Linked DNA regions of Homo sapiens. The protein of the gene in region 2 purifies or fractionates together with the protein of the main gene of each other region. This does not show direct contact. Each region holds a gene or a part of one and is shown on either strand. Other genes may lie near its edges.

Region 1 (4,219 bases), on a different chromosome or scaffold from region 2:
CTGAGGTTGCAGTGAGCCGAGATTGCACCACTGCACTCTAGCCTGGCGACAGAGCGAGACTCCATCTCAAAAACAAAAACAAAAAAACAAAAACAAACAGACCCCAACTCTCAGCATATACAAAAATCAAATCAAAATGGATTAAAGACTTAAATGTAAGATCTGAAACTATACAACCACTAGAAGAAAACACTGGGCAATTGCTTCAGGACATTGGTCTGGGCAAAGATTTTTTTGAGTAAGACCTCAAAAGCACAGACAACTAAAGCAAAATAGACAAATGAGATCATATCAAGCTAAAAAGCTTCTGAGAGGAAAGAAAACAACGAGTGAAGAGACAACCTACAGAATGGGAGAAAATATCTGCAAATTCTCCACTCAACAAAGGATTAATAATCAGAATATACAAGGATCTCAAACAACTCAATAGCAAAAAATTCCCATTTAGTCCTAATAATAGTTAACATGTATCAGACCCTATGAGAGAAACACTGTTATATCCTTTACATAGATTTCCTTTTATGTTCAAAACAATCTCACGAAACAGATACTATTATTACTCCCATTTTGCAAGAAACTAAGGTTTAGAGAGGTTAAGTATCTTTCCCCAATTACATAGCTAGTGGAGCCAGGATTCAACCCAGGCAGCCTATCTTAACTCACTCTCTTAACCACTACAAAGGAGGTGGTGACAGATTGGATATTGGGGGTGGGGGTGGGGTGTGAGTAAGCAAAAAAAAGGGTTACCAGATATACTAGGCTTCTGGCTGGTATAACAGATTGTCTTGTATAACAGACAGAAGACTAGGTTTGAGGAGAAAGGGCATGAGTTCTACTTTGGACAAACTGAGGTGGCTTTGAGGAGACCAAGTGGAGGAAAAGCTTCCCAGGGGAATGGTAACTAAATATTGAAATATTAATATATAGATCTGGGGTCAGGCGCGGTAGCTCACGTCTGTAATCTCAACACTTTGGGAGGCCGGGGCAGGTGGATCACTTGAGGTCAGGAGATCGAGACCATCCTGGCTAACATGGTGAAACCCCGTCTCTACTAAAAATACAAAATTAGGGCCGGGCGCGGTGGCTCACGCCTGTAATCCCAGCACTTTGGGAGGCCGAGGCAGGTGGATCACGAGGTCAGGAGATCGAGACCATCCTGGCTAACACGGTGAAACCCCGTCTGTACTAAAAATACAAAAACAAAATTAGCCGGGTGTGGTGGCGGGAGCCTGTAGTCCCAGCTACTCGGGAGGCTGAGGCGGGAGAACGAACGGCGTGAACCAGGGAGGCGGAGCTTGCAGTGAGCGGAGATCGCGCCACTGCACTCCAACCAACGCGACAGAGCGAGACTCCATCTCAAAACAAACAAACAAAAAAACAAAATTAGCCGGGCGTGGTGGCACATGCCTGTAATCCCAGCTACTTGGGAGGCTGAGGCAGGAGAACTGCTTGAACCTGGGAGGCGGAGGTTGCAATGGGCCGAGATCCCGCCATTGCACTCCAGCCTGGGCCACAAGAGTGAAACTCCGACTCAAAGAAAAAAAAGTACATACAGATCTGGATTGGATCTCAGAAGCAAGGTCTTCTGAGCTGTAAATTCACAAGTCATCTGAATATAGATGGTAACTGAAGCCATAGTTTAGGATGAAGAATACAGAATGGAAAATGAAGGATTAGGATGAAACCTGGGACTCCTTCGAGCATTGTCCAGGGAAAGGAGAATAGTCTGAAAGGGAAACAGATGGACCAATAGGAGAAGTAGGAGGAGCTCTGTATCCCAGAAGCCAAAGGGGAAGAATGAAGGAAGAGAATGCTTCAAAAACAAGAGAGTATAACACTCTGGAATGCAGCTAAAAGGTCAGAGAAGACGAAAACTGAAAAGAATCCATTCGATTCAGTGACCATGACAAGATCTATTCGATGAAAGTGGGCTGAGAATTGAGTGGATGGTCACAGAGAGCAGTGTTTTGTTGTTTCTAATGAAATTTACCCATATTTTAAAACCTAATGGGATGGATCCAAAAGATCCTTGATGGCGATTTATTTAATTTTCCACTTTATTTTTATGCTTGGGGTCCATCCCATGTAAGAACAGAAGCCACAGCCCCCAGAACCAACAAAACTAAAGTTATTGACAATTACTTTAAGGCCCAGTGCCAAAGCTTTGGGTCGAAAGGTTTCCAACTGCCATAGGAAAGCAAAGATAAGGAGAAATCCTCTGTAGGAAGCTAGGGAAAGGAGCAGAGAGAAAGAAGCTAAGGTGAGGCCGAGAGAATTCAATCGGAATTCGAGTCCTCCCCCAAAACGCCGCCAGGTGGAAGATGCTCGGGGCCCACCAACCCCTGGAACCTGGCCACGGCCCTGGCAGGGAAAGCAGGAATTGAGGGAGCCCTCCGATGGGGCAGACCCCTTTCCCTCCAACCTACAGCTCAGAAGCTGAAGCCCTCCAACCAGAAGGACCTGGCGTGGGGCCTCCCCAACCCCCCTGCTCGTGGCCGCACCCTAGTCCCATGGCCCGCTGGGCGGGTCCACCCCGGGCCCAGCTGGAAGATGCTGCCCTGAGGCGTGGTGGCGGCGGCAGAGGCCAAGTACTCTAGCTATGGGCACTGGCCAGCTGCTGGGAGCGGAAGCGGCCGCCGAGCCCTCCTGGGCGCTGCCCGCCGCCGCCGGCTCCGGAAACCGGGAAAACCCGGCTGGCCGGCTCGCCCAGCCCTCCGGCCCCCGCCCTCCCAGCGGCAACTCACCATTTTCCTTCCGGCCGTCAGCGGCCTGTCGCCTACACTCGGGCGCCTTTAAGAATGGCACGGCGGCCGCCTCCCTTCCTGCCCCGGCGCCTGGCCCAGTCGCCCCCACCTATCAACGCGGCCTCAGCGGGCCGGCACGTGATGGCGGACGGCAAAAGGCGCGGCTCAAAATTAGACAGAATGCGATCGCCTGATTTTTTTTTTTTTTTTTTTTTTTTTTTTTTTCTTTTCCCTGCTCCCTCTAGAGGAGGACGCTCTGCCTGGCTGCAAGTGAGAAACAAACCCAAGGTGCATACTTAAAAGTCATGCCAGTTCTCCGGACCTTTTTCGCAGTCTTCAAGCTCTGAGAGCATGTTAATGGTGACATCAATGTTTTCAATGGTAAATGTGTGTACTGACCGCAGCCTACCTTCCAAATTTGATCTCCCTCAAATCTAGGCACACCTCCTTTCCTCCCACCCTCTCCAGAACCCCACTTCTGACCACGGCTGCCTTCCAGGACTTGGTTAATCAATCTCTCTCTCTCTCTCTCTCTCTTTCTCTCTCTCTCCCTCCCCCTTTCCCTCTCTCTCTTACACACATTTCTTCTCTCTCACACACACACACATTTCTTCTCTCTTCTCTCACACACACACATTTCTTCTCTCTCTCTCTCGTCTCGCTCTGTTGCCCAGGCTGGAATGCAGTAGCACGATTATAGCTCACAGCAGCCTCAAACTCCTGGGTTCAAGCAATCCTCCTACCTCAGCCTCCCCAGTAGCTGGGACTACAGCCGTGTGCCACCACACACCCGGCTAATTTTTAAATTTTTTTGTAGAGATAGAGTCTCCCTATATTGCCCAAGCTGGTCTTGAACTCCTGGCCACAAACAGTCTTCCTGTGTGCCTCCCAAAGCGCTGGGATCACAGGCGTCAGCCACCATGCCCAGCCTCTTTTCTCCATACAAGTTATTTATTGAAGTATGAATGAATGATGATTGGTGTTTCAATGAGCACTCTTATGGGCCACTGCCTAAGTAAACATCAAGAAGTCTCTGTACCAGATGCAGACTTAGTGGAACAAGTCCAGTTTTGAATGCATGAAGAAAGTGGTTTGGGAGAAGTAAAGTTTAGGCTCTAGGATTCAACAGGTACCTTCAATAAAACAAACTGCCTGGGGCAGTACCTCATTTTGTTATGACCATGGGTTCTTGGTCTCTCAATGCAAATTGACCTGAGGCCAAAAGAGTTTCTCCAGGCAAGGCTTCATTGGAGCTTATGCCGGAGCATAAGGGAGGCAGCATAAGAGAATGAGAGAATTCCCTGACTGACTCTCCTAAAAGAGCACAACAAATTAGGGGTAGTTTATGCAGGTCAGCATTATCTGTTTGCCAGGGTTGTCTTGAGTAATGGGCCACCCAATGGTCTGGTTTGCGGCAACAAGGCTGTGAATCAATTGTTCAACATTCCTCTCCAAGGTGGGACACTCTCAACCTT
Region 2 (4,279 bases):
GAAACCAGTCACTCTGTCCCCTGCAGACCTTGGAGGAGATCGCTGAGCTGCAGGAGGACATCCGGCACCTGGAGGAGGATCTGCGCACAAAGCTCCTGAGCCTGAAGCTGTCCCATACCCGGCTAGAGGCCAGAACCTACCGGCCCAACGTGGAACTCTGCCGGGACCAGGTGAGAGGGTGTCCCAGTGGCGCACGGGCCCCCTAGCCAAGGTTTTCTCATATTCCTGATGGAGCAAGGGCACTGCTGTCAAGGGGCAGCACTCAGGTAAAGGACAGTGTGGCTGACTTGGAACTCCCAACCCCTCTGCCTCCAGGCACAGTACGGCCTCACCGACGAGGTTCACCAGCTAGAGGCAACCATCGCTGCCCTGAAGCAGAAGCTGGCGCAAGCACAGTAGGTCTCGGGAGTGGGCGGAAGGAGCAGTGAGACGCTGCCCACAAATGGGGCCTCTTGCTGGCTGCTGGCTCCCTGGGGCTGTCTTCCTGACTGAAGGCTATGCACGCAGCCCAGGCCTCCCAGCCTCATGGGGGCTGGGGGGTTGTCAATGTCCTTCCCTAGGGACGCACTGGACGCCCTGTGCAAGCACCTGGCCCGGCTGCAGGCTGACATTGCCTGCAAGGCCAACTCCATGCTGCTGGACACCAAGTGCATGGACACACGGCGCAAGCTGACCGTGCCTGCTGAGAGGTTCGTGCCTGAGGTGGACACCTTCACACGTACCACAAATAGCACCCTGAGTCCACTCAAAAGCTGCCAGCTGGAGCTGGCCTAGCCTTGGAGGACTGCAGGAGGAGGGCAGGGTTGGGTGGGCAATGGAAGGAGGGAGGAGAGAAATGAATGGAATAAATGCAGAGGATCTCAGGCCGGCTGTTCTCTGCCCCACTGTATGTAGCCAGCAGGGAGAGGGTTCTTGAACACCCTCCTGTCTATGGAGGAGCAAAGATGGGGAACACTATTCCTCCGAACTCCATGTACCAAATCCAGTTCTTTCCCTCCCCTCAGGGCACCCCTCTCTGGGCTGGGTCAGCACTCCTGGGCTGCAGCAGCGCGGCCTCTACCTGGCTGTGTCCCAGTTGGCCCCTGGTCCGCCCTCCTGATGCTTAAGGGAGGCCCACAGGGGGCAAGGGCCCGGTGGGAGGGCTTGGGGGTGGTCCCGGCCTCGGTGGGGAGGGCCGGCTGGGGGTGCGGAGTTAGGGTTGCTCGCCTGCGGAAGGCAGTGTGGGCTGCAGTGATCCAATGGTCTGGCTCAGTGCCCATCCCCCGGAGACCCCATAGTGGCCTTCCCACCCAGTTAGCCCAGTGGTGAGGAGCGGAAAACCGAGACTCAAAGCACAGGCTGGCGGGAAGTGCGCGGCGCCGCGACTCCGGGCCGCTGGGCGGCGCTGTGGGCCTGGCGGCGGAGTGGAAACTCTAGGCCCCAGGGAGCGCTGCGGACGGAAGTAGGGAAACTGTGAGGGCGGCACCGGAAGTGGCGAGCAGTCTGCGCGCGGATGGCCGCAGCGGCGATGGCGGCAGCGGCAGGTGGAGGGGCTGGCGCGGCCCGCTCCCTCTCGCGCTTCCGAGGCTGCCTGGCTGGCGCGCTGCTCGGGGACTGCGTGGGCTCCTTCTACGAGGCCCACGACACCGTCGACCTGACGTCAGTCCTGCGTCATGTCCAGAGTCTGGAGCCGGACCCCGGCACGCCCGGGAGTGAGCGGACAGGTGGGCGGGGCCGGGCGCAAGTCAGAGGCCGTGCGGGAGGGAGGCCGAAGGGGCGCGGAGCCTCCGGGGGCGACGGGTCGGGGGTGCGCGGGGATGAGGCTGCCGAGGGCACCGGGGCCAGAGCCGGATGACCCGCAGACAGCTTGAGCTCAGCGAGTGCCAGTGCGATCTCCGGCCTTATAGACGTCTCGCCCCGAACATCCCGTGCTCGGGGCGTGGCAGCACCGGGGCCTCAACCGTGCAGGGTGTGGATAAACCCATCGTAAGTTGAAAATACCTGAAGTGGAAAGTGCGCTTTCAGCTTAGACGACCGTTTTATCTGGACGCAGCCCCATCGGACGTCGAGGAGCCTATGAATGCGTATCAGCGTTATCAGAAAGCCGAAAAAAACTTAAGTTGAACCATCCTAAGTCGGGGACTGTCTGTCCACCCTTGCCGACTTGACCTCTTTTTCCCGGTTCTCTAGAGTCAGTATACCACCAGCCCGTTCTCCACCCCGCAAGGCGTGCTTTGGAAGCCTGACTCTAATCGCGTCCTCCCCTGCCTAAAACCCTGCTGTGATTTCCCATTACCCTTAGTACAGAGCCACATTCCTTAACGTGTCCGACGTGGTCCGGCCCTCCCACACGTCTGCAGTTTCGTTTTCCGCCAGCCTTGGCCTTGCTTTCTGCTCTTCGGTTCCTCACACCATGATTCCTCTAGGCCAGGCGTTTGCATGCGCTGTCTCGCCTGTAAAACTAACTTCCCTTCCCTTGTGGGCTCAGATCCCGGCTCAGGTAGCAGGTGTGAGGTCAAGCAGAGGAGGTGAATCTTCTTGGAGAGCAGGTAGCATAGTAAGAAGAAAGGGCCATGGTCAGAACCCTGGAGAACACCGGTAATTAAGAGGGAGGGAGGGAGGGAAGGGGATTAGGGAAGGAAACAGTTTGATAGGAGGAGAAGCAGGAGTGGCTATCAACGAAACCTAGGAAAAGAATTTCAAAATGAAGACACTGATCACTGGTGGTGTGCTCCAGAGAAGTGAAGTAGGAGGAGATCTGGATCCAGAAACTATCATTTTCAATCTGGGTATGGTGGCGCACACCTATAATCCCAGCTACTCCAGAGACTGAGGTGGAAGGATCATCGCTTAAGTCCAGGAGTTCGAGACTAGCCTGGGCAACATGGCAAGATCCTGTCTATAAAAAAGAAAAACAAAACAAAAACAAAAAGACTGGAGCTGCAAGGATGGCAGCCACAAGGGGATGGAAGTTTTCTTTCAGAAATCAGAAGATCAAACCATGATGTAGGCTCATAATAAATAAATACATAAAATAGAAAGCAGCAGGACTGACTTGGAATAAAGAATTGCTGAAAATCCCATTGCTGAGATCCTAAGGCTTCCCAGGCCCACGAAAGTGAATGGGAGTGAGAAACTGATTTGAGGTCATTTTAGATGTGGTAACTCTGAAACATGAGTAGAGGCTGGGTGCCGTAGCCACAACTGTAATCCCAGCGCTTTGGGAGAGTCCACTTGAGCCCAAGAGTTTGAGACCAGCCTGGCAACAGGATGAAACTCCATCTCTACAAAAAAAAAAAAAAAAAAAAAAAAAAGCCAGGCGCAGTGGTGTGCACCTGTAGTCCCAGCTACTCGGGAGGCTGGGGCAAGAGGCTCCTTGAGCCTGGGAGGTCGAGATGGAGTGAGCCATGGTCGTACCACTGCACTGCAGCTTAGGCAACAGAGTGAGACCCTGTACCAAAAAAATAATAATATAAACTAAAATAAAAGGTGAGCAGGGCCAGGCACAGTGGCTCAGGCCTATAATCCCAGCTCTTTGGGAGGCCAAGGCAGGAGGATTGCTTGAGCCCAGGAATTCAAGACCAGTCTGGACAACAGAGTGAGACCCTGTCTCTACAAAAAAATAAAAGTAGCTGGGTGTGATGATGCATGCCTATAGTCCCAGCTACTTGAGAGGCTGAGGCAGAAGGATAGCTTGAGCCCAGGAGTTCAAGACTGCAGTGAGCCATGATTGCACCAGTGCACTCCAGTCTGGGCAACAGAGCGAGACTCTGTCTCCAAAAAAAGCAAAAAACAACAACAAAAAAAACAAAGGTGAGCAGGAGGCTCTCATCCTCCCTCCTCTCCCCACAGAAGCCTTGTACTACACAGATGACACAGCCATGGCCAGGGCCCTGGTGCAGTCCCTGCTAGCCAAGGAGGCCTTTGACGAGGTGGACATGGCTCACAGGTGAGGGGGATGGTCCTGGGCTGAGGCAAACCAGGTGGGAAAGTTATTGCACCCCTTGACCAGAGGAATGACATTTGTGCATGTCCACGCCCCCAACCCTCCACAGAAGCCTGTGTCAGGCTGGCACAGCTTCCCAAGCTAAAACAGCAGCACTGCTGGTGCAGGCTCCTTAGGCCCCCGAGGCTTTCTCTTTTTCCAAACTAGCCTCGATTTCTTCTCTCCCAACCCTTAGAGGCATCTTGTAAATCTGAATTCTGTCTCCCCTTCTGTTCCCTAGATTTGCTCAGGAGTACAAGAAAGACCCTGACAGGGGCTATGGTGCTGGAGTAGTCACTGTCTTCAAGAAGCTCC
Region 3 (4,092 bases), on a different chromosome or scaffold from region 2:
TCTAAAAAACAGGAGATGAGGCCGGGCATGATGGCTCACATCCTATAATCCCAGCACTTTGGGTGAGAAGCCAAAGTGGGTGGATTGCTCGAGCCTGGGAATTCAAAACCAGCCTGGGCAACACGGCAAAACCCCATCTCTACAAAAAAAATACAATAATTGGCCGGGCGTGGTGACTCAGGCCTCTAATCCTAGCACTTCGGGAGGCTGAGGCAGGTGGATCACCTGAGGTCAAGATTTCGAGACCAGCCCAGCCAACATGGTGAAACCTCTCTCTACTAAAAATACAAAAAAAAATTAGCTGGGTGTGGTGGCATGCCCCTGTAGTCCCACCTACTAGGGGAGGCTGAGGCAGAAGAATCGCTTGAACCCAGGAGGCGGAGGTTGTAGCGAGCCAAGATCGCGCTACTGCACTCCAGCCTGGGCGACAGAGGGAGACTCCATCTCAAAAAAAAAAAAAAGTATTTAGATTTTGCCAGTTCTCAGGGTCTTCATTTCCTTATGAGGGCTTCCACGTCATGTAAAACTTGTATTAAATCTGTTTTTCTCCCCTTAATCTGTCTTATGCCAAATTAATTCTCAAGCCCAGCCAAAGACCCTAGGAGGGCAGAGGTAAAGTCCTGCTTCCCTTACAATGGCATCTGCTTAAAAGCTCCAAAAAATGTCTTGGCCTTTGTCACACTTCTGTGGACACAGTCAAGTCCTTTAAATCCTCTCAAGTCTCACGTTTGTAACCAAGCCAAGTAAATCCTGTCCTGCTCCCTAAGGAACACAGAAGGTCTGAGATGCCCTGCCTAGGCCGCGCCCAAAGGCCAGATGGGCTTCCCGAGGCCTGGCCGGGAGGGCCTCAGATGTCAGCTTGACTGACCCCCTCCTTCTCCCCAGAGGGACAGGGCCCGGGTAAGGGCTTGACCAAGGTCGCGACGCGAGACGGTGGCGGAGCCCGGCCCCAGCTAGATCCACGCACTCACAGTCCTCGCTGCCGCCCCCGCCCCAGGTCAAGGGGCGCCACTCGCCCCACTGCCCGCCTCGAGAGGGTTTTTTCCCAGGCCCCGCACCCTCACGCCGTGCGACCTGGACTCCCACGGCGGGACCCGGGCTCACACCTCTTCCTGCTGCGGGGCGGAGTCGCCGCCGCTCCGGGTCTTTGTCCCCGCCTCCGAGACCCCCGCGCGCCCCCAGCACTTCCGGCCGCGGGAGCCAAGGGTTCGTGCCGGGCAGCGTCTCCCGGGGCCAGGTCGCCTCCTGCCGGGACCCGGGCGCGCTGCAGCCGCGGAGCCGGGTGCCCCGCCCTCTTCCCGCCGGCGGCGGAGTCGCTGCCGCTCCGGGTTCCCGTCCCCGCCTCCGAGACCCCCGCGCGCCTCCTCCAGGCGAGCTGCGGGGCGGGAAGGGTCCGGCCACCGTGGGCCGCTGCCAGCCGCGGGGCTGCCGAGGGCCGCGGGCACGGGGCGCTGGCTCCGGGTCTGGCGGCCGCTGATGGGAGTCGGAGCCCGGGCGGGCGAGCGGCGGCGCGGCGGCCACCATGGGGAACAAGCAGACCATCTTCACCGAAGAGCAGCTAGACAACTACCAGGTGAGCTCGGCGCGCCCGGCCCCCAACACAGGCCCCGCCGCCCCGCCGCCCCTCCCTTTTCTCGGTCGCTGGCCGAGGCCTCCCGAGAGCCAGCTCTCCCAGGTTCAAACCCTGCCTCTGCCTTCAGCTCGACGCGTGACCTTGGGCCGGTGACTTCCCCTCGCCGTGCCTCAGTTTCCCCACCGGTGGAATAAGAGCTCTTTCCAGTTGGAAGAACCTCTCAGGCGCGCCTCTCTCCAGCTACTCTCGCCCTAGGCAGGACCCGAACCCCTCTCCAGCCACCCATTCCAGCGCCCATCTGGCCCGGAGAGGGAGTCAGTAAACTAGGCTGGACGGAGGACCGCCCTCCCCGCTCCCTGCCCCCCAGCCCCAGGAAGGAGCCCAGGAGAGCGAGTCTCTGTAAAGCAGAAATGAGAGCTGGCGTCCTGTCTGGTCTAGGAGTGGGGTGCATCAGTCCCCACATGCAGTCTTCCCTTGGGACTGTCTTGTTTATCGGCTGGGGTTCGCTCCTTCTGACCCCAGCATGGAGATAACTGGAGCAAGAACGCAAGCCCGGTAGCAGCCTTCCAGGGCCACCTCTCCCAGCTCCCTTAGGCCCTCAGTAGCCACCTCCTTAGACCTTTCTAGGTTTTCCTGCCTCCAGAGCCAGCTTTCCAGATCTGGAATCCCAATACCGTCCCACCCAGGTAAAAACTTCGCTGTGGTTGCAGGATGAAGCCCAACCCCTTGGCTTACCCGGAGCCCTGGCCAATTGCTCAGCTTATCTCTGCAGCCTCAGTCTCCCCAGGTCCCTTCCCTGCCCTCTGCATGGCAGCCGCCTTAAAACCATTTGCAGTTGCTCCAGCTCACCAGGCTCATTCCTCCCTCCCTCTCTCCCTCTGCCCATGCCATTTCCTGGGCCTGGATGCCTTTCCCCCCTCCAGAGGATCTCTTTCACCCTTCAAGTCCCACATCTGATGCCTCTCCCCTGACTCCCCAGGCGGAGGGGGCAGGATTGTGTTGTGGCCTGTGTAACTGGGCAGGAGGAACACCAACAGGGTCTCCATAGGCACTTGTTGCCTTCATCAGTGCTTACTTTGGCTGTGAAGGAAAGCAGGTGTGAAGTGTGGGTCCTCTGATGTGGGTGAAGGTAAAACAAAGGCCCCTTCTCCTCCTAGAAGCCCTAGTTGTCAGTAATGGATTTCTCAGCTCCCCAGGTGAGGCCCTGGGAAGGAAGAGGGGAGACGCATTTATGGAGCACCTGCTGTGTACCAGGCACAGTAATTGATGCCCTCTACGCATCAACTCACTTGATCATCACAGTGAGGTGGATTATTAGCCCATTTTACAGACGTGTAAACAGAGGCTGAGGAGCCATTCAGGGCTCACACAGGATTTCGAATCTTGACTCCTAGGCTCACTTCTTTAGTTGGGAGTGGGCTGGGCTGGGCCATGTGTGCTTTTTGTTCCCAAGGCACTCAGTCTCAGACACTCAGAGACAGACTCTCACCTCCAGTGTGTGGCCCTTGTGATAGAGGCAGGTGGTGGAGTGTGTTCTAGGGAAGGGCACTAGTGGGCAGTGGGAGGCCAGCAGGGAAGGGGGACAAAGTCCAGAAACGATACAGCACTTGAGCAGGCCTTGGGAAGATAGGTCGGGTTTTGCCCAGTGGGGCCCAGAGGAGGCATTCCAGGTGGAGGGGACAGCGTGGATAAAGGCTTGGGAGTGGGCAGGGGCAAGCAGGCAAGCCATGCTCAGAAGTGAGGAGTAGCTTCATGGGGGTGGGGAGCCCAGGTTCCCACTCCAACCAGCCTGGCATTGGGTTACTCATCGGAGCCAGTCCCAGTGTTATGTTCTGATTCTTTGCCAGAGCCTAGCTAGACCCTGCCAGGCGGGGTGGGAGAAATGAGAGCTGTGAAACCTGAGAGCCCCACATCTCCTACCCTCTGGCTCTCCAGCCAGCCATTGCCAGCCCGGGCTGAGTGGGGGTGAGCCTGAGTTACAGCACCCTCTCCCCTAAGTGACACCTAGGGTTTCTTGGGACCTCCCAGCCTGGTAGTCTAACCTTTCCTGGGCAGGGTGCACCCTCTTGGTTCCCGGTGCCGGTGATTCCCAACATTTAAGCTTCTGTCCAGAACACTCCTCTGCATTGTACGGCCATCCCCCAGACCCCTCAAACTCCAAAACAGGGGTCACAGCCTCTCCAACACCCACTGCTGCTCCTCCAGCCATTTCAACTCTCTGCTCTCCCTCAGCCCATGTTTTCAGTTAAGAACAAGGCCTGTGACTCAGCCTCTTTTGTGGGTCACCTGGAGGTCCCCTCCTCCATCACGACAGCCAGGGCCCTGGGCTAGGCCTGCTCAGTCTCCTGCAAACTGGAGGTCTGACTGCTCCCTCCTGCGCCCCTCCTGCCCATCCCCCTCCAGCCACCCGCCCTCTTAGTTCTCTCACTCTTCCTTCATCTCTTTCTTTCTCTTCCTTTTTTTTTTTTTTGAGACGGAGTCTCGCTCGCCCTGTCACCCAGGCTGGAGTGCAGTGGTGT
Region 4 (3,938 bases), on a different chromosome or scaffold from region 2:
TGGTGAATTCAGTGGTTCTTGTCCGATGGTGCGAAACTCAAGTGCTGGGGGAAATTATGTATGACCCATAATAATGTCAAAATTCTGCTGATATCATTCCTCTATTTAACAATCGTGTATAAACTAATTCTCATCAAAGAAATATGTATCATAGAACATACTGTACACGTGGAGAGAATTAAAATACACAGTAGCATACGTTGGGAGAATTAGTGGGAAAGGGTTTTTAAAATCCTTTACTGTTCAAAAGGAGGGTAAAAATATCAACTACAATTGAATATTTAGAAAGTAAAGAAATGCTGTAATCGCAAGGGTATTGCGATTGTTAGGTTGGGCTAATTTCTGTAATAAACAACCCCCAAAATCTCAGTGGTTATGGAATAAATGTTTCCTTCTGGCTTCGGTCACCAACTAATGCAGATGGGTGGGGCTCTATTCGGCGCAGCTACTCAGTGGTCCAGGTTCCTCCCACGTTTTGGGTCTGTCTCCCCGGGAGCCTCGGGTCCTCCCTGGGATCCCGTATCTGGCTACCGATAAGAAGAGGGAGACAGCAGGTGTGGAGGAGACTTTTTAGGAGCCATGCCTAGAAGTGGTGGATGTCTTTTATGTCCAAATTCCAATGAGCAGAACTGAGCAAATAAAAGGGAATTGGACGAATTCAGTTTTGGCTCCACCAAATAGCCTAACTGGTGACAGAAGGGGCCGGGGGAAGAAGGTGGGGGAAGAAGAATGATGAACGAATACTCCCAATCAATCAAAAAGAGGCAAGAAAATAGAAGAAATGCAAGGGTTTCCAATCCATACTACACCCCTGTCACTCTTGGGACCGCAACTTGCCCTCCCAGAGCCTCGGTTTTGTAAACAAAAAACATAAAATACTTCCTAGGGATGGTAAACTGATTCAACCAGATAACGCAGGGAAAATGCTTCGCACGCCGCCTGACACGAACTTACTGTGCCTGGCTGCTGCTGTTATTTATCACTAACACTTGCCACACCAGCTCAAACGCGCGTATTTGCGGACCAGGCGCTGAGGGTCACGTGAGCAGCTTGGGGCCGGGAGGATCCCCTAGCGCCACCCCGGCCCCGCCCGGCGCGTAGCGACGCCCACGCGCCCGGGCCGGAAGAGAGGTTGCTTAGCAGCGTGTGTTTCTCCCTTGCCTCTGCGGCGGCGGAGGCCTGGCGATGCCCAAGAACGCAGTGGTCATCCTGCGCTATGGGCCCTACAGCGCGGCAGGCCTACCGGTGGAGCACCACACCTTCCGCCTGCAGGGCCTGCAAGGTGGGCCTCCTCGCCGCGTGCGCCCCTGAGGGCCCCAGCCTCTGAGCATCCGTGCAGGTGGTGCCCTGTGCCTAGGCCTTCCTCAGACCCCCACGAAGCGCCACCTCTCCAGGAAGTCTTCCCCAGGATGATGTTGCAACCTATGGCTTCCAGGGCTGGGCTAAAAGAGTGGGAAGGCTCTTCTATCCAAGAGTGAGCTGTGGGCCCACCCAGTGCCCAGCAAATTACAGAAATTACCTCCATAGAAAAAATTACATAACCCTGCTTTAAGAATTGGGAAACTGAGGATCAAGAATATTAAGTGACTTTCACAACTCAAATGGCTGGGAAGTAGCGTTGCTGGTATTCCATCTCTTAATCGTTCATGCAGCAGACTTTTATTAAGCACGCAGTGTGTGTTGGACACCCTTCCAGGGACTGAGGACACACTGTTAAACAGTGATGAATGTCCTTGAAGTAATCTCCTTGTTAACTGCTAAATGACAGCTGTGCCTAAGCTCTGACTGAGGCTAGGTGGTGCCATGGGAGCTAACCACAGTGGGACCTGTGACTAGCCATAATGGGAGGGGAGAGGGAGAGGTCTGGAAAGGCTCATTTAAGTGGAGCCTTAAATGAGCCCACATTTAAGTAGACCTTTAAAGAATGAGTAGAAACTAACCAGGTAAAGAGAGGAATGCCTTCCAGGCAGAGGGACTAATAATATAGGCAATGGCTGGAGGCATTCAATAAATGATGTATTAATATTTGTTAAACTGATGGGGGATGAGGCTGGAGAGGTAATCAGGCCAGATCCTGCAGTGCCGCAGATAAGTTTTAGGCAGGGGATGAAGCTGTTGCTGCTCTGAGGAGAACAGATTAGAGGGGGCAAGAGTGGAAACAAGGAAGACAAGTCTGTTGGGGTGGTCCAGGGCTGAGATGAGAGTAGCTTGGACCATAAAGGAGACCATGGATCAAAGTGAAAGCAATGGTACTTCCTGAGAGGATGGAGGTGGGAGGTAAGGGTAAAAAGAATGTTATCCGGATCTAATCAGTGTCTGACTTGAAACAGTGCTGATGGATGGATGTACTGTCCACTAAAATCAAAGACACCAAAGATGGACCAAAATTTGGAGGAATATGTGGAATCGTTCCAAAGGAACAGTCTATTTTGGTCATACAGATAGTCCCCAACTTAGACTTCTTGACTTTAGCATGGGTTTATTGGGAGGTAACCCTATCCTAAGTTGAGGCACATCTGAACCTACAATGGTTCCACTTAACGATTTTTCCACTTTATGATGGGCTTATCCAGGTATTAAGCCCACTTTCCACTTACAGTGGGCTCATTGGGACCTAGCCCCATCATAAGTCAAGGAGCATCTGAATTAAGCTTCATGTGCTTTCGGCTACCTAGACAGAGGTGCTGAATCAGCTCTGTTGTTCTGGAGTTCAGAGAAAAAGTCTGAAATGGAGATAGAAAGATGTGAGTCATTGACTTGGAGAGAACATATAGAATGAGATGAGAGCCCAGGAATGACCATTGATGAACTCCCATCCTATGACCCAAACTAAGAGTCTTCCAGGCAAAATACCCTGAAGCCTAAGGACACAAAAATTAGTTTTAGCTGAGCAATCAGGGAAAGCCTCCTGGAAGAGATGGCATTTGAGTTTGAGTTTGAAGGATGGGTAGGATTTCAATCAGCAGAGGAAGTTACTTTCTGTGAGAGAACAGTTGATAGAGAAATTTCTGTTGCAAATACCTCCATGTTTGTATTTGTCTATTGGGATTGCCAAAACAAAATACCATAGACTATGGGACTTAAACAATAGAAATATATTTTTTCAGTCTAAAGGCTAAAAGTCCCTGATCAAGGTCTGGCAAGGTCAGCTTCTGGTGAGGGCTCTGGGCGCTCTTCCTGGCTTGCTGACAGCCACCTTCTCTTTTGTCCTCACCTGGTGGGATTATATGGGGAGAGCGGGGAGCAAGCTCACTGGTGTCTCTTCTTATAAGAAGAAAGACACTAATCCTATCAGATTGGGTCCTCATCCTTATAACCTCATTTAACCTTAATTACCTCTTTAAGCACCTGTAGTCACATTGGGAGTTAGGGCTTCCATATATGAAGTTGGGGGAAGGGGGGCAACAATTCAATTCCTAGCAGTGTTGCATGGTGATGTTTAAAATGTTTTGTAGTTTTGGCTAAGAAGACAGCCTAAATAAGTGACTTTTCTCTTCCTCCCCCTCTGATGAGCCACACCTACCCACCCTCACCTCATAATCTACCTTTAGTTTATGTTCACTGTCTCTAAAAATAACGTGGGTAAAACATATATTTAAAATGTTGCCATTTTAACCATGTTAAGCATACAATTCAGTGACATTAATTATCTTTACAATGTTGTGGAACCATCACTATTCTCTCTTTTTAAAATTTTTCAACACCCCAGACAGAAACTGTATTCCTTAAGCAACAACACCCTATCCCTCTGTGTCCAGAATTTATTCCTTCTGGTGGGTTCATGGTCTCGCTGACTTCAAGAATGAAGCCAGGGACCTCGCGGTGAGTGTTACAGCTCTTAAAGGTGGTGCATCCAGAGTTGTTTGTTCCTCCTGGTGGGCTCGTGGTCTCGCTGACTTCAGGAATGAAGTTGCAGACCCTTGCAGTGAGTGTTACAG

The links. The genes of interacting proteins can lie anywhere in the genome.
Region 1: the proteins of ADPRS (region 2) and GMFB purify together in Homo sapiens (co-immunoprecipitation; one large-scale study listed by IntAct). This does not show direct contact.
Region 3: the proteins of ADPRS (region 2) and CIB2 purify together in Homo sapiens (co-immunoprecipitation; one large-scale study listed by IntAct). This does not show direct contact.
Region 4: the proteins of ADPRS (region 2) and C10orf53 purify together in Homo sapiens (co-immunoprecipitation; one large-scale study listed by IntAct). This does not show direct contact.

Annotation. Positions count from the first base shown.
Region 1 is NC_000014.9:54,486,181-54,490,399, forward strand, and holds the start of GMFB (glia maturation factor beta), read right to left. Parts: upstream 2,801-4,219; 5' UTR 2,748-2,800; coding exon 2,745-2,747; intron 1-2,744. UniProt on the Homo sapiens protein: This protein causes differentiation of brain cells, stimulation of neural regeneration, and inhibition of proliferation of tumor cells.
Region 2 is NC_000001.11:36,087,413-36,091,691, forward strand, and holds the start of ADPRS (ADP-ribosylhydrolase ARH3), read left to right. Parts: upstream 1-1,479; 5' UTR 1,480-1,492; coding exon 1,493-1,703; intron 1,704-3,831; coding exon 3,832-3,928; intron 3,929-4,205; coding exon 4,206-4,279. Other genes in the region: TEKT2 (tektin-2), read left to right, coding at 27-170, 316-395, 561-774. UniProt on the Homo sapiens protein: ADP-ribosylhydrolase that preferentially hydrolyzes the scissile alpha-O-linkage attached to the anomeric C1'' position of ADP-ribose and acts on different substrates, such as proteins ADP-ribosylated on serine and threonine, free poly(ADP-ribose) and O-acetyl-ADP-D-ribose.
Region 3 is NC_000015.10:78,128,646-78,132,737, reverse strand, and holds the start of CIB2 (calcium and integrin-binding family member 2), read left to right. Parts: upstream 1-1,292; 5' UTR 1,293-1,522; coding exon 1,523-1,573; intron 1,574-4,092. UniProt on the Homo sapiens protein: Calcium- and integrin-binding protein that plays a role in intracellular calcium homeostasis. Acts as an auxiliary subunit of the sensory mechanoelectrical transduction (MET) channel in hair cells.
Region 4 is NC_000010.11:49,678,513-49,682,450, forward strand, and holds the start of C10orf53 (UPF0728 protein C10orf53), read left to right. Parts: upstream 1-1,138; 5' UTR 1,139-1,185; coding exon 1,186-1,282; intron 1,283-3,938.